Linked DNA regions of Homo sapiens: region 2 is linked to region 1. A link means that fine-mapping ties the variant in region 1 to the expression of a gene that starts in the linked region. Tissue or cell type: whole blood. Region 1 holds a variant in brackets; the other region holds the start of a gene. All regions are shown on one strand. Distances are from middle to middle.

Evidence for each region. PIP is the estimated chance that this variant, and not a neighbour inherited with it, causes the effect.
Region 2: it holds the start of DENND5A, and the variant in region 1 is fine-mapped to the expression of DENND5A in whole blood (TOPMed, PIP 0.91).

The regions. Positions count from the first base shown.
Region 1 is chr11:9,310,015-9,318,195 of GRCh38, reverse strand. TMEM41B (transmembrane protein 41B) reads left to right here and starts at 3,603. Exons shown (of 7, transcript NM_015012.4): 1 at 3,603-3,875. The coding sequence starts at 3,755. It also overlaps the pseudogene PRR13P2. RefSeq lists a silencer at 3,264-3,613 and enhancers at 3,379-3,894, 3,895-4,412. The variant C/T (reference allele first, on the strand shown) is at 3,293.
Region 2 is chr11:9,261,980-9,270,160 of GRCh38, reverse strand. DENND5A (DENN domain containing 5A) reads left to right here and starts at 4,811. Exons shown (of 23, transcript NM_015213.4): 1 at 4,811-5,200. The coding sequence starts at 5,092. RefSeq lists enhancers at 4,510-4,579, 5,660-5,779, 5,940-6,279 and silencers at 4,860-4,959, 5,010-5,369.

The DNA of each region.
Region 1 (8,181 bases):
TGGTCTCAAACCCCTGAGCCCAATCAATCCGCCCTCCTCAGCCTCCGAAAGTGCTGGGATCACAGGCATGACCCACCCTGCCTGGACTTAATGTTTTTCTGTCTGATAATTTGCTTTTTCAATATTTGTCTGGAGGCTGGGGCGTGGTGGCTCACGGCTGTAATCCCAGCACTGGGAGGCCGAGGTGGGCAGATCACCTGAGGTCGGGAGTTCGAGACCAGCCTGATCAACATGGAGAAACCCCCCTCTACTAAAAATACAAAATTAGCCGGGCGTGGTAGCACATGTCTGTAATCCCAGCTACTTGGGAGGCTGAGGCAGGAAAATCGCTTGAACTGGGAGGCGGAGGTTTCCGCGAGCCAAGATCATGCCATTGCACTCCAGCGTGGCAATAAGAGTGAAACTCCATCTCAAAAAAAAAAAAAATTTTGTCTGGAATGACTATGTATATATTCATGTAATTAAAGTAATAAAAGTTTAGAGATAGTTCTTCTCATACATAATCTTATATCTGGTATCTTCTTTTTGTCTCCAGTACACTATGCTAGGTCAGGCCAGGATTATTGCAGTAATCTCCTAACTTCTCTTTCTGCTGTTGATTTGGCACACTTCCATAAGGCGGTCAGAATAAGCTTTGAAAATTCAAATCTTTTTTTTGAGACGGAGTTTCACACTTGTTGCCCTGGCTGGAGTGCAATGGCACGATCCCAGCTCACTGGAACCTCTACCTCCCTGGTTCAAGCGATTCTCCTACCTCAGCCTCCCGGGTAGCTGGGATTACAGGCGCCCGCTGCCACGCCCAGCTTTTTTTTTTTTTTTTTTTTTTTTTTTTTTTTTTTTGAGATGGAGTCCTGCTCTGTCACCCAGGCTGGAGTGCAGTGTCGCGATCTCGGCTCAGTGCAAGCTCTGCCTCCTGGGTTCACACCATTCTCCTGCCTCAGCCTCCTGAGTAGCTGGGATTACAGGCGCCTGCCACCACGCCCGGATAATTCTTTGTATTTTTAGTAGAGACGGGGTTTCACCATATTAGCCAGGATGGTCTTGATCTCCCCACCTCGTGATCCGCCCACCTCGGCCTCCCAAAGTGCTGGGATTACAGGCGTGAGCCACCACACCCGGCCACACCCAGCTAATTTTTTGTACTTTTAGTAGAGACGGGTTTTCAAACTGGTCTTGAACTCCTGACCTCAGGTGATCCAACCATCTCAGCCTCCCAAAGTGCTGGGATTACAGGGGTGAGCCAATGTGCCCGGCCAAAAATACAAATCTTACTAAGTCCCTCTCTGGTTAAATATCTTTGAGGATTAAGTTCAAACTTTTAGCAGTTTGTGATAAGGTCCTGGTCTCATATCTTTCGTAGCATTTCTTTCCATTCTCCCACCCTTTGCTTGAAGCTTTTTTTCTAATATAAGCAGTAGCTTCTAGCCTTTGCAAAAGCTATTTTCTCTGCTTTCAACTTTGTTAATTCCTATTCATCCTCTAAAAATCAGTTTTAATCCTGCTTCCTGGGAGACTTTACAGCCCCACTGTAATTTAGATATTCCTCTCTTCTGCTATTGCAATCTGCGCACCCCTCAGTCACTCTTATCACACTGCACTGAGGTTGTTCATCTTTTCCTAATTTTTTGGAATTTCCTAAGTTTTGGAGTTGGCTTTCCCACTGCGCACTCAGATGTCTTAAGCACATTTAATTTTTTCTTCTGTGTGTTGATAATTCATATTCTTTGCCCATTTTTCTGTTGAGTTGTGCTTTCCTTACTGATTTGTAGTAATTCTTATGTGTCAAATACTTCTCAGTGTTTGTTTTTAGTTTTTGTTGTACTTCAATTTTTAATGTTTGCATAGTAAAATATATAAAATGTTTTCTTTTTTTTTTTTTTGACTTGAACTCCCGACCTCAAGGTGATCCGCCCACCTTGGTCTCCCAAAGTGCTGAAATTACAGGTGTAAGCCATGGCACCTGGCCCATAAATATAATTTCCTAAGATTGAAAATTTATTCGGCTGGGCACCATCTCAAAAAAAAAAATTATTCAACAAATTCATTGAATGGCCACTTAGGTATTGGCACTCTGTCAGCTACCGGGGATACAATGGTGATCAAAAAGACAAAGCCCAGCTGGGAGCCATAGCATGGAGCCTGTAGTCCCAGCTACTCAGAGGGCTGATGCTTGAGGATCCCTTGAGTCCAGAAGTTCAGATCCAGCCTGGACAATATAGTGAGATTCCCATCACTTAAAAAAACAAAAAACAAAAAGACAAAGCCCCTGCCTTAAAGCTTATATTCTAAAGGTGGAGGCAGACAATAAACAAGTAAACAAATAGTTCACAGAATTAATTGCTTTTAATGACTATGAAGGAAATAAAATGGGAGCCAGAAGTAGGCAAAGGATGTGTACATAAAACAGTTCAATTGAATGGGTTTCCCATAATTTACTTAACCATTTTTATTTAGTGTTGGATTTTTATATTGCTTTTAGTTTTTCACTGTTATACTAATACAGAGGAATTATTTATGTTTATTTTCATGGAATAATTTCCTACAAATGTAATTACTGAATAGAAACAATCAGGATTTTTTTTTTTTTTTTTTGGGACGGAGTCTTGCTTTGTGGTCTATGCTGGAGTGCAGCGGTGCAATTTCTCACCGCAACCTCAGCCTCCGGGGTTCAAGCGATTCTCCTGACTCACACTCTCGAGTAGCTGGGATTACAAGCCATCATGTCCAGCTCATTTTTGTATTTTTAGCAGAGACGGGGTCTCATCTCACCATTTTGGCCAGTCTGGCCTCACACTCCTGGTCTCAAATGATCCGCCCGCCTTGGCCTCCCAAAGTGTTGGGATTACAGGCTTGAGCCACCGCGACCGGCCTCTAAGTTGCTTTCAAGAGGTAACCACGGTGAGTAAGCTGAATGTGCTCTGAGGGGTAGAAGCAGAAAAAGTTACCTGTGGAAAAGGCATGTTTCCGCTTAGCTTAGGGATAAGCTAAATGTAGAGCTGACTTGGGTTTAGTAGTAAGGGGCAGCAGCTAATGCAAAACCGTTAGCTTTGGGAACAGGACAACCTGGATTCTAAGCCCATTTTTGCCATCCTGTGATCTTCACAGGTTGTACGTAGCCCTCTCTGAGCCTTAGTTTCCTGAAATTCAGGTAGGTTTTGCTCAACCTTTGTATTTCCCACCATCTTTTAGATCAAGCACTCTCTGGCGCCTCCAAATTGAAGACAGCAGCTGCGGAATTGATGTAATGGGCTGAATCAGCCTCAGCCGCGAAATGCCGACTAATCACAGGCAC[C/T]TCCGGCGGCCTGGACAAAAGGTTTGAAGTCCCTGGGACCGCACTTCCGGGTAATTAAGGCTACGCTTTAGACGCCAGGGCCAGCGAGTCGCAGCCGGGTGACTCGAGTGCCGCGACTGCGCATGCTCTCGCCCCAGCGCCCGGCGGCCACCTCTTTCCCGCGGGCGGGCCGGGGCGGGGCACTGAAGGGGGCGGTCCAGGACCCTGACTTGTCTCGCGGTTACTGGGCCGGCGCGAGCACGCGAGGCTCGGGGGCGGCACGGGGCGGGGTTTAGCCTGTGGTGGGCGCTGCGGGTGTTTGCAGGAGGTTGCAGTACTCGCTGGGCTGAGGTCGTCTCGGGTGAGGAGGTCGCGCCGGAAGTGGCTCTAGCCGTGGCGCTTCGGCGTAGTAAGGAGCCTGCAACAGAGTTTTGTTGTTTAGGGGGCGCGGCACCGCACCGCTCCCTTCACCTTGCAGCAGCCATGGCGAAAGGCAGAGTCGCCGAACGATCGCAGTTGGGCGCTCACCACACGACCCCCGTGGGGGACGGGGCAGCGGGGACGCGGGGTCTCGCGGCGCCTGGCAGCAGAGACCACCAGAAGGGTGAGTGGGCCCGGGGAGCAGAGCTGGGGGTGGCCCGAGGCTTCTGTGTGTCGGGTGGGGAAAAGGACCCCCGCTATTCTCGGAGAGTCGCGGGGAAAGAGGGGGGCCTGCTGGCGCCGCGGCGGGAGCAGAGACCGTGGGGGAGTTGGGCTTGGGCGCTCGCGCAGCACAAGGCCGGACGCCGAGTAGGTGCGTTGTAAATGCTGTTTGAGTAGAATTCATTTAAAAGAAGGGATGACACTGGCTTGTTGACGCTCAGGTAGATTGTAAGGTTGATGATAACGACGCTAGGCAGAGCTGGAAGGAGCTGTACTGTGGCATTCGCTGCGTTGTTTTTACAGATGAAGAAACTGAGGCCCAGTGTGGGTATATGACTTATAAAGTCATAAAGCCAGATCAGTGAAGTAGTAGTTAGGAGCGAGGACTTAATACTTCCAGGTGGCAGTACACCTGGGCTTGAGTCCCTGCCCTACTGTTTACTTGGAACCTTGGACTTGGTAACTTTCAAAAAAAGCTCAGTGTCTGAACTGTGAAATGGGGATAATAATAATATCTACTTAATAGGTGGTGCGTGGGTTAAACGAAATAATTCACGTAAAAGATTTAGAGCAATGCTTGGATATGAAGTGGGGGCTAAATAAATATTAGCAATTACTTAGTTACAGCTAAGGTCACTCATTCTAAAGTTTATTTCCCCACTACATCATCCTGACATTTCTCACGGCTTTATTTTTGGTTTTTGTTTTCTCTTTATTCCTACTGCCTCTATAATTGCAGAATCTCACGGCTTTAAATATTGTTTTAAGGAAAAAACTGTACGTAGAAACTAAATACTTTGATTCCGTGTTGGCCTGGAATCGTTCTTTAAATGATTTTAAAGCTCATAAACTTAAAGTGATCCTAACAAGTTTGTCTGTAGCTCACATAGGTGTGTTCCACCACCAGTGATGGCTAGGAGAACTTCTAAGAGTATGTAGTAGAAAATGTTAATGTATTTTCAAATAATTTAAAATGTCTCCAACAGTCTAATTTGGCTCTGTCAGCCTTATGTTTTTGGGTATTTTTCCAGCTTATATACACTGGATCCAGGTGACTTCATATAATTTCAAAAACTGAGAAATGAATCGTTGTTAATGTATAAATCAGCTCTGAATAAAAGAAAGATTGTTTTGAAGACTCTACTACTGAGGGTGACAATATTCCAAGGTCTGGGTTTCCTGAAAAAGTGTTCCAGATAGGGCATCCCTAAAAATTGACATCTCATTTGAGGTAGCAGCCAGTTGTATTCATGATTTTTACCTAAAGCTATTCAAAAAATAAAACCTTGAAACTTCCAAAGTGCTCTTACTTTTTAATCTTATTTTATCATTACAACAAAACATTCAACACAATTATTCTTTTTTTTTTTTTTTTTTTTGAGACGGAGTCTCGGTCTGTCACCCAGGCTGGAGTGCAGTGGCGCAATCTTGGCTCACTGCAAGCTCCGCCTCCTGGGTTCACGCCATTCTCCTGCCTCAGCCTCCCGAGTAGCTGGGACTACAGGCGCCCACCACCACGCCGGGCTAATTTTTGTATTTTTAGTAGAGATGGGGTTTCACCTTGTTAGCCAGGATGGTCTCGATCTCCTGACCTGTTGATCCGCCCGCCTCGGCCTCCCAAAGTGCTGGGATTACAGGCGTGAGCCACCACGCCTGGCCTACAATTATTCTTATGATGCTGTCCCATGACATCTATAGATCACAAATCTATAGGAAGACAGGGAAGAGATGTGAAGGCGTGCCTTCACTTCATGATGAAGTAAGGCCTGTTTTTAGTGACTTGAGACAAGGCCTCGCTGTGTCACCTATGCTGGAGTGCAGTGGCATGATCATAGCTTGCTGCAGCCTCAGCTACCTGGGCTCATGCGATCTTCCCACCTCAGCCCCCTCAAATAGCTGACTACAGGTGTGTGCCACCATGCTCAGCTAATTATTTGTTTTTTGTAGAGAAGGGGCCAGGGTGTCTTGAAGTCCTGGGCTCAAGCGTCTTCCTGCCTTGGCCTCCCCAAATGCTGGAATTACAGGCATGAGCCATTGTGCTTTGCCAGATAAGTAAGGTTTGGATAAGTAAAGAGAAGGGAAGGGTATTCCAGGCTAGGAGAAAGAGAGTAGTAGGGTTGAAGGTTAGTGTGAAACTTTTATGTGTGTGGGTAGGGAGATTAATTTGTCAGGAGCAGAGGGTTTCTGTTGGGTGGTAGTAGGCGATGAGGTTGGCCTGTTCAGGATGTGTCAGAATGTTCCTGTAAATTCCATGATACTTGGAAATGAATTTGTATTCTATTAAGTGACACATATATAACTTTGACAAATAAGTAGTTATCATCATATGTATGTTTGAACTGTTTTACATGCTATCTGCAATGTTTGGTACATTTAGTGGATTCCTTGCCATTACTCTGGCCTCTAGTCTCAGAGCTAAGCCTAGTAGACTGTGGACCACTTTGACTACTTGAGTAAGGCAGAGGTAACACGGAAAGTCTAATTTTTGCATGATGAAGATGAGAGAGCAGACAGGAGGTGAAACTAGTTAAGAAGCTCTTGAGAATGCATCAAGCCCAGGCAGCAGTGGAAAGGCTGGAGGACACACCTAAACATGTGGAATCCCAGTGCCAGGCAGCCAGGGCCAAATCCATATCCACCCAACATTGGGTGCCCTGGAGGTTCCAATCCTGCCCACTCACCACCTATCAACCCACCCTTTCCCCCAGGCCCCTGTCCTCCTCCCCCAGGAGCTCCGCAAGGCAATTCAGCTTTCCCCCCAGGTTGGCCCCCTCATCCTGTGCCACAGCCAGGGTATCCAGGATGCCAATCCTCGGGTCCCTACCCTCCTCCATACCCACCGTCTGCTCCTGGAATGCCTCCTGTGAGTCCCTTGGCTCCTGGCATGGTTGGACCAGCAGTGATAGTGGGCAAGAAGATACAGAAGAAAATGAAGAAAGCTCATAAAAAGATGCACAAGCATAGCAAGCATTCCTCCTCCTCTTCCAGCAGTGATTCTGACTGAATACAGGCCCTGGGTCCTTCCCTCAAGTCTCACCAGTTCTGCTCTCCTATCAAGCTTCAGATGCCATGTTGTATTGGGGGAAAGTAGCCCTTGTGCTCCCCACACCCTACCCCCGCCTGAGCTTCACCCTGCTGTTGAGCCCTGAGTGGCTAGGGAAAATGGGAAGAGAATTGGCATGGCCTGGCCATCTTGTTGTTGCTTGGATAGATCATATAGCTAATGAGTTTAGCAGGGGAGCTGTTTTTTGAAGATGATGAACTAAATGTTGAAGACAAGTTTGAGATCTGTAAAATGTGATTTTTTACTTCTGCTTATAATACTCATGATTGGGGAGGATTGTGGAAATTTAATTATGATGAAAAACCTCTATCTTTTTTGTAATGTTGGCATACTTGGGGAATTTAGTGGAAAATACATTCCCCAGCAGGCCTTTTGTTGGTTGCACTAACTGCAAGGTTGCTGGGAAGTAGAGTCTGTTTGGTCGATGAGCTTTGACTGCCATTTTGGAACCTTACCTCTCCTCCTTAGCCCAGTATGCTATCTCAGGTCCTATTCTTGTTCTCCAGCTCTCAGTCCAAATAAAGTTATTTCTCCTGGTTAAAAAAAAAAAAAAAAAAAAAAAAGGGCTCTTAACCTAATCGGTTTGAAGGTGACTGGACTAGAGTACATAACTTTTTTGGTGGTGTTTGCCCCGACCTATGTATTTACTAGCAAGTTCTCCATTTTAACTTAAGAGAGCTGGACTATGTTTTTCAATATATAAGTCATGACCCTTGTGAGGGGTGTGAAATCAATTTGATGGATAATCAATAATAAGCATTTTTTTAAAAAAAATGGAATAGAAGAGAAAATATCAGTGCTTTGGGATTAAATGCTGGTTTTTTTTTGTTTAATCTTTCCTTGAGTTATATAGATTTTGTGTATACCGGGTCATGTACATTACTTAGGCTGACATGGTGGCTCATGCCTGTAATCCCAGCACTTTGGGAGGCCGAGGCGGGCGGAACATGAGGTCAGGAGTTCAAGACCAGCCTGACTAACATGAAGAAGCCCTGTCTCTACTAAAAATACAAAAATTAGCTGGGCATGGTGGTGCACACCTGTAATCCCAGCTACTTGGGAGGCTGAGGCAGGAGAATCACTTGAACCCAGGAGGTGGAGTTTGCAGTGAGCCAAGATAGCGCCACTGCACTCCAGTCTGGGTGATAGAGTGAGACTCCATCTCAAAAAAAAATAATAATAATAATAATACATTACTTGGAAC
Region 2 (8,181 bases), 48 kb after region 1:
TACAAGGCTCTCCATGATTTATCCTCTTACCCAACATCTACTTTGGTGATGGTTAATACTAGCTGTTGTAACAAATAAACCCCACAGTACCAGTGGCTTCACACAACTGAAGTTTATTTTTTGTTCACAGGACAGTCCGGTGTGGGTATTCTTGGTCAGCTGGAGCCTTTCCTCCATGTGCTTTACCATTACTTAGAGCCTCAGAATCTTCTAATTCTAGCTGGTAGAAGGCAAAAATAGAAAGAAGGGAGAAGTCTAATCTGCTTCTTAAGTGCCCTGACCTAGCAGTGACATACATAAAGTCCTACACACATTCCATTGTTGAGAACTAGTCACATGGCCACATCTGGATGCAAGTAGGGCTGGGCAGTGTCCCTGAGGAGGCGGGTCCACACACTATGGAAGGGAAAATTGATGTTTTTGAATTGCAAGCCAACTCCACCACACCTTCTACCATCTTCCACCAATCCTCCCCACCCTAACCCTCTCCAGCCACCCTGGCTTCCTTATTGCTCCATGAACACTCCAGGCACACTCTGCCGCACACCCTCTCCTGGAGTTATGTTCCCTCAGATGTCCACTTGCTCTCTCATGTTCCTCATGCTAAAATGGGTGTCCCAGATTGCCACTTATTAAAAGTATATTATGTCCCAGATTTTAAAAATTCCTTTTTCCATTAATTTATGAATCTTCAGTGCAATTCTGTGAGGGGTCAGAATGACTCTTCTCATTTCAGAGTGTTTAACTGATGTACCCCAGCTTACACAGCTAGTAAGAGTGGGAGTGGATTTAAACATTAAATCTTCACGCCTGTAATCACAGCACTTTGGGAAGTCAAGGTGGGCAGATCACCTGAGGTCAGGAGTTCGAGACCAGCCTGGGCAACATGGCGAAACCCCGTCTCTACTAAAAAAAAAATTAGCCCGGCATGGTGGCGCAGGCCTGTAGTTCCAGCTACTCAGGAGGCTGAGGCAGGAAAATAGCTTGAACTCGGGAGGCAGAGGTTGCAGTGAGCTGAGGTTGTGCCACTGCTCTCCAGCCTGGGTGACAGAGCGAGGCTCTGTCTCAAACAAACAAAAAAACATTAAATCTTGGCTTGGCGCAGTGGCTCACGCCTGTAATCTCAGCACTTTGGGAGGCCGAGGCGGGCAGATCACGAGGTCAAGAGGTTGAGACCATCCTGGCTAACAGGGCGAAACCCCGTCTCTATTAAAAATACAACAAAATTAGCCACTACAGGTGGCGGGCACCTGTAGTCCCTGATACTCGGGAGGCTGAGGCTGAGAATGGTGTGAACCTGGGAGGCGGACCTTGCAGTGAGCAGAGATCACCACTGCACTCCAGCCTGGGCGACAGAGCGAGAATTCATCTCAAAAAACAAACAAACAAAAATACAAAAAAAAAAAAAAATTAGCCAGGCATGGTGCGCGCGCCTGTAGTCCCAGCTACTTGGGAGGCTGAGGCAGGAGAATCGTTTGAACCTGGGAGGCGGAGGTTGCAGTGAGCCGAGATGGCGCCACTGCACTCTAGCCTGGGTGACAGAGCGAGACTCTCTCAGAAAAAAAAAAAAAAAAAAAAAGAAAAAATCTTAAGAGCATCCCTTTCTATATTTTCTGACTCTCTAAGAAGCAATCACTCTGCCAAACTTATTTCCTACCGGGAAGGAGATCACTTCACAGTTGAGTATTCTGGGCTTCTGAGCAGTTACATTTCCCAGGGCAAATTAATACAGTTATGCATTCGTTTTTAACTTGTGTTTTACGAGTTGAGTTAATATGAGAGGTCGTCTAGCACCAGATCACCCTGGACACCTTGGATAAAAAGTTTCTGGACTTTTCAGTTGAGGACGTTTATTCCTTTCTCAAATTTCTTTTTCCACATCACCCCTAGAGTGATCATTCTCAGATTTGGGTCAGATATCACTCCTTGGCTTGAATTCCTTTACTTTACCTCACTCATCCTCAACTCATATATCTTATAGGATAAATTATTTCTAAAAAATACTATTTATTTATTTATTTATGACAGGGGTCACATTATGTTCTCCACTCTGGTCTCAAACTCCTGGGTTCAAGCAGTCCTCCTGCCTCAGCTGCCCAAAGTGTTGGGATTACCAGCGTGAGTGTGAACCACGACGCCTGGCCGAGGATAAATTCTTTAGCCTGGTATTTGAATCCATGCCTCCTTCCTCTGTTCTCCTTCTTCCTCCCCTGCCCTGGTTTCATTCCCTTTAAACTCTCCATCTCCCATCTTAATGTTAATGAATTACTTGTTGATGCCTGAACATACCCTTTTATCTGTTGCTCCCTGTTGTTACACATACTGAGTTAAACATCTTTCCCTGCCCCTTTTTACCTGAGAAACTTCCTGTTGATCCTCTGGAACTCAGGTCAGAGTATATACCTCCTTCTGGAAACCTTCCCTGACCATTCCCCAATCTGGAAAGATGTCCTCCTTCTGTGCTCTGTAACTTTCTTTTTTTCTTTTTTTTTTTTCAGGGTGTCTCTGTTGCCAGGCTGGAGTGCAGTGGCGCCATCTTGGCTCACTGCAACCTCCACCTCCCGAGTTTAAGCAATTCTCCTGCCTTATCCTCCTGAGTAGCTGGGATTACAGGCACCACCATACCCAGCTAATTTTTATAATTTTAGTACAGATGGGGTTTCACCATGTTGGCCAGGATGGTCTTGATCTCCTGACCTCGTGATCTGCCTGCCTTGGCCACCTAAAGTGCTGGGATTACAGGTGTCAGCCACCACGCCTGGCATATTTATTTATTTATTTATTTATTTATTTAGAGGTAGAGCCTCATTCTGTTGCCCAGGCTAGAGTGCAGTGGCACGATCTCGGCTTACTGCAACCTCTGCCTCTTGAGTTGAAGCGATTCTCCTGCCTCAGCCTCCTGAGGAGCTGGGACTAAAGTTGCCTGCCACCACACCCTGCTAATTTTATATTTTTGGTAGAGATGGGATTTCACCATATTGGTCAGGCTGGTCTTGAACTTCTGACCTTAAGCGATCCGCCAGCCTTGGCCTCCCCAAGTTCTGGGATTACAGGTGTGAGCCACCACGCCCAGCCTCTGTGACTGTTTAACTCACTAATCCCCCTCTACTGTCTCTGTGTCCCCAGCATGCAGGATACGGGTGGAGCATCACCATGAATGGGCGTTTTGAAGCAACCTTCTCCTCCCCACTTTTCTCCCCCTAGTTCAGGCAGGTTAGATACAGGGAGGAACAGGTGCTATGGCTCCGAGAGACAATGGCTATAACCTCTAGGTAAACCTCCCCAAGGGAAACAATATTTGAGAGAAGTACCCAGGAGAACCTAGGAGAGAGCCTAGGCTCAGCCTTTGGGGAAGCCAGCTGCCTTCTACAGCTCTTAGTGGCAGCCTCCCAGAACAAACCGTAAGAGTACTTCCTTCTGGAACAATAATAATAATCCAGGCTGGGGGCTCATTGGCTCATGCCTGTAATCCCAGCACTTTAGGAGGCAGAGGAGGGCGGATCACCTGAGGTCAGGAGTTCGAGACCAGCCTGACCAACACGGTGAATCCCTGTCTCTACTGAATACAAAAAATTAGCCGAGTGTGGTGGTGCGCGCCTGTAATCCTAGCTACTTGGGTGGCTGAGGCAGGAGAATCACTTGAACCTGGGAGGCAGAGGTGCAGTGAGCCGAGATTACGCCATTGCACTCCAGCCTGGGCAACAAGACAGAACTCCGTCTTGAAAAAAAAAATCTGTAATATTTACTGAGTGATTTCCATGTTCCAGGCAGTATTCTCATTGTTTTACCTGTACTTGCATTTACCTTATGTAATTGTCTCAAAAACCATGACGCCAGGCACTTAGAGATTAACTTGCTCAAGGTCAAAAGTAAATGATCGTCAGGATTGAAATCCGAGCATTTTTTTCTAGAGCCCATGCTAGTGACCACTATACCTGTGTTGCCTTTCTGGCCTCTGATCTCCAGTTTCCAACAAAGACACATCTGCCTAGCTTCTATGGGAAAGGAAATCGGAGGGTCCTAGGACAAGGACCAATAGGTAAGTTTCCCTTCGCCTCCTCCCTATCCTCTTACAGGAAAACAGGTTTAGGGGTGGATCTGAGAGTTTTCACAGAGTGAAGAGGAAGAGGAGCTCCCAAATGGCAGGCGCCTCTGGAGGCTTCCAGAGAAAAAAGGAGAGAGCGTGGGAAAAGGGCAGGCTGGGAGGTGGGAGCGGCGAGGAACGGGGAGCTGACCACAAGCCCAGGATTCCAGACCAGGCTTATGTCTCTTAGACTCAGCGTAACCTTGGATAAGTCCTTGCTTCTTTCTGAGACTCAGTTTCCCCGTCTGTAAAATAAGGGTAAATATAAAACCGGCTCATCCGCCCCTGCCAAAAGAGAGGACAGGGAGAAGGCCCTGTCTGGGGTCTAGGCTGACACGCTGCAGCTAGGATTAGGTGAGCTTCCGAGCTCAGTCGTGAGACCCCATCCTCATGGCAAGGCCGCGCTAAGATCTCTGGACCTCTGCTTGCTGGGTGGGTGGTTGGGGGCAGAGCATGGGCCAAATGCCCGGCTCTGCAGGCTGCGCCCACTCTTCTCGCACCTCCTCAGCCCTCCCTAAAGGAGTCTCAATCCCGGGGGAGTGGCAGTTGCGGGCGACCAAGCAGTCACCGGCTGCGCTGCGGCGACCTCCCGGGAAGCTGCGGCCGGCGGGGTCCGAAGAGCATCACGTCATCCTTTCCCCCAGGAGCCCGCCCCCTCCCAGACGGCGCCTGCGCAGGCGCGGTAGGAGGAGGGTCACGGTGGGGGCTGTCCACGCGCTCTCCGCCCTTCTCCAGGCTCGCTCGGGCCGCGGCGCTCTCGGCTAGCTGCAGCGGCGGCGGCGCGGAGGGGAAGGCATCCAGGATGCGGTGCGGGGCGGCCCGGTGCCCCCCCGCCCCGTCACGGCAGCCGCGGCGGCCGAGGGGACCGGGCCAGGGCCGGGGGCGGCGGCCCGAGCCGCGGTAGCGGCGGCGGCGGGAGGGGCGGCCTGAGGGCGGACGGGCGGGCGCCCGGGTTGCGGGGGCTCGGTGCCGCTCCGCACTGCCCGGCCGGTCTCGGCCCCGGCGCCATGAGTGGCGGCGGCGGCGGAGGGGGCTCGGCGCCCAGTCGCTTCGCCGACTACTTTGTCATCTGCGGACTGGACACGGAGACCGGGCTGGAGCCGGACGAGCTGTCGGGTGAGTGCGCGCCGAGCCCGGGGCGCTTTCCCGCGCCCGCTGTCGTCGGGGACCCCAGAAGAAACCTTCCTTCAGCCCCGCTTTGTCCCGGGAGCCGGGCGAGTGTCGGCCGGGAGGACCAGGGCGGGCGCGGGCGAAGGGGGCTTTGGACTGGAGGGGGGAAACGGATGAGGGGCTCTGAGCCATGAGGGGTCCAAACCTACGGCCCGCTGCGCAGTGGCCACGTCTTCGGCGACCAGAAAGAGGGAGGGTTGTGTGTTCTCAGTTTGGTGTAGGTTGAGTGACTTCGTTTAAAATAAAGGAAAGCTTGTCCTCTGGCACCCATTAGGGAGGGAAGGCGTCCCACGTCCTAGTGAAAGTAAGTTCCACCCAGACTTAAAAAAAAGGAAAACAAAAACTTGGTGAGTTTATCTGGCCACTTCCCAAGAAGCTTGTGATACTAGTTCCTCAAAACCGTTATACCCCAGCCCTGGGCTGGGCCCCCTGAGTCAGATTGCAGCTCTGCGCGTCTGGATGGGATATGAAGTAATAAAGTGAACTTGGGCGGCACCAAGAAGAGTAGGAACTCCCTTAGCCTTGGAAAGGGCTTGTATCCCGGGGCCATGCCTTTTTTGAAAAGTAATTTATGTCCTTTATGAGGACAGAGGCGTTTGTGAATAAAAGGGTAGCAGCATTGTAGTTGGAGAGGCTTGGTGTGTTCTGATGCGTTTCAAGTCATATTTGAAAGGGAAAGTGATGAGGGGAGTCAAAGATGGGGCCCTGACCAGATTTGGCACTCACTGCAGAAGGCCGTGAAAATTATACAGTCCCCGTGAATTTTCCACTGCACTGTCATTGGAGTCTTTGAATTGTAACAGTTTTGAAAATAAGTTTTTGTCTGGAGTTTCCAGTTAGTGGGTTTCAAGTGGGTGGAGGTTTGTCGGGTTGTACTTTAAGGTTGTGTCATCCTGATGAGGGGGACTCCTTTTCACTTTTCTGTCACTGTAAAGTTTCTCTTTCGAAAGTGATTATCCTGTTGACTAATCTTACTCGGCTTCAACGATGACAAGACAGTTTTGTTTTTGGGCACCAGAAAAAGTCCAGTGTTTCTTTTTTTTTTTTTTTTTTTTTTTGAGACGGAGTCTCGCTCTGTCGCCCAGGCCGGACTGCGGACTGCAGTGGCGCAATCTCGGCTCACTGCAAGCTCCGCTTCCCGGGTTCACGCCATTCTCCTGCCTCAGCCTCCCGAGTAGCTGGGACTACAGGCGCCCGCCACCGCGCCCGGCTAATTTTTTGTATTTTTAGTAGAGACGGGGTTTCACCTTGTTAGCCAGGATGGTCTCGATCTCCTGACCTCATGATCCACCCGCCTCGGCCTCCCAAAGTGCTGGGATTACAGGCGTGAGCCACCGCGCCCGGCCCAGTGTTTCTTATGAAAAAAAAATTAGGCGGGGCGCGGTGGCCCACCACCCGGCGGCTCAGGGGTAATCCCAGCACTTTGGGAGGCCGAGGCGGGCGGGTCACCTGAGGTCAGGAGTTCGAGACCAATTTGGCCAACATGGTGAAACCCCCGTCTCTACTAAAAATACAAAAATTAGCCGGGCGTCGTGGCGCGTGCCTGTAATCCCAGCTACTCAGGAGGCTGAGGTAGGAGGATCGCTTTAACCCAGGAGGGGGAGGTTGCAGTGAGCTGAGATTGCGCCAGTCTGGGTGATTGCGCCACTACACTCCAGTCTGGGTGATAAAGCGAGACTCTGTCTGGGAAAAAAGAAAAAGAAGAAAAAAGCATGATAAATTCATGCTTTAACAAGGTTAGAAAAAAATGAGCTATTTCCTCAATAGCAGGTGGAGAAAATATGAAGCAGTAATATAATTAATATTAGGCTTTTTGTCGGGGTAGTTTTATGGTTTCTAATTTACTTTAAAAAAATTTTAGTTTTAGGCCGGGCGCGGTGGCTCACGCCTGTAATCCCAGCACTTTGGGAGGCTGAGGCGGGCGGATCACGAAGTCAGGAGATCGAGACCATCCGGGCTTACAGGGTGAAACCCCGTCTCTACTAAAAATACAAAAAATTAGCCGGGCGTGGTGGCGGGCGCCTGTAGTCCCAGCTACTCAGGAGGCTGAGGCAGGAGAATGGCGTGAACCCGGGAGGCGGAGCTCGCAGTGAGCCCAGATCGCGCCACTGCACTCCAGCACTCTAGCCTGGGCGACAGAGCGAGACTCCGTCCAAAAAAAAAAAATTATTTTGATGAGTACCTAATAATTGTTCAAGTTTATCTTTTAAGGTCTTCAAATTCTTATAGTACAGATGTTTTTCATCTTTTTCATATGTAGTAAGTTTGTGACTTTGATGTAATTTTTGGAATTCGGTTCAGGGTATTGGTGTTGGAAGGGACCTCAGAGGGGAAAATGAGGCCCAGGAAGGACAGTGGGGCCTGTATACACTAGTTAATTGCTTGGTCCAGTGCTCTTCTCATGACATTAAACTGCATCTCATTGGCCTGGCTGGAGGTCTTTAGAAAACACTAACATGTTGAGAAATATTAAAAACAACATAATTCTTCTCAGTAAAAGAAACTAAGGTGGTGGAATAAACTTTTTTTTATGCGTGTTTTTGAGTGTCAAATTGTATGAACACTTGGTTTGAGAAGATAGAATGTTTTGCGAATGATAGAGCATAAGAATGAAGCTGGGAAGTTAACTGTTAGCGAGAGCATGAGTTTAGGGTAATATTCCTGCTCTCCTATTGACTATCTTTGTGATTGGGAGCAAGTTAGAGATAACCCTGTCAGGGTCCTCATCTATAAAAAAAGAATGTAAATAAAAATAATCTCATCAAGTAGACCTTCAAAAATGTTTAAAAACTGTCTTTCAACATTTCATTAAAAAAGAAATGTTACTGTCTTAATGGATATGTGTTAATTATCTGGCTTTTTGGCAAGCTAAAATTATATCCTTGTGAAAGTTTATTGGGATAATAAAGAAAGGGGGATGAGTTGTA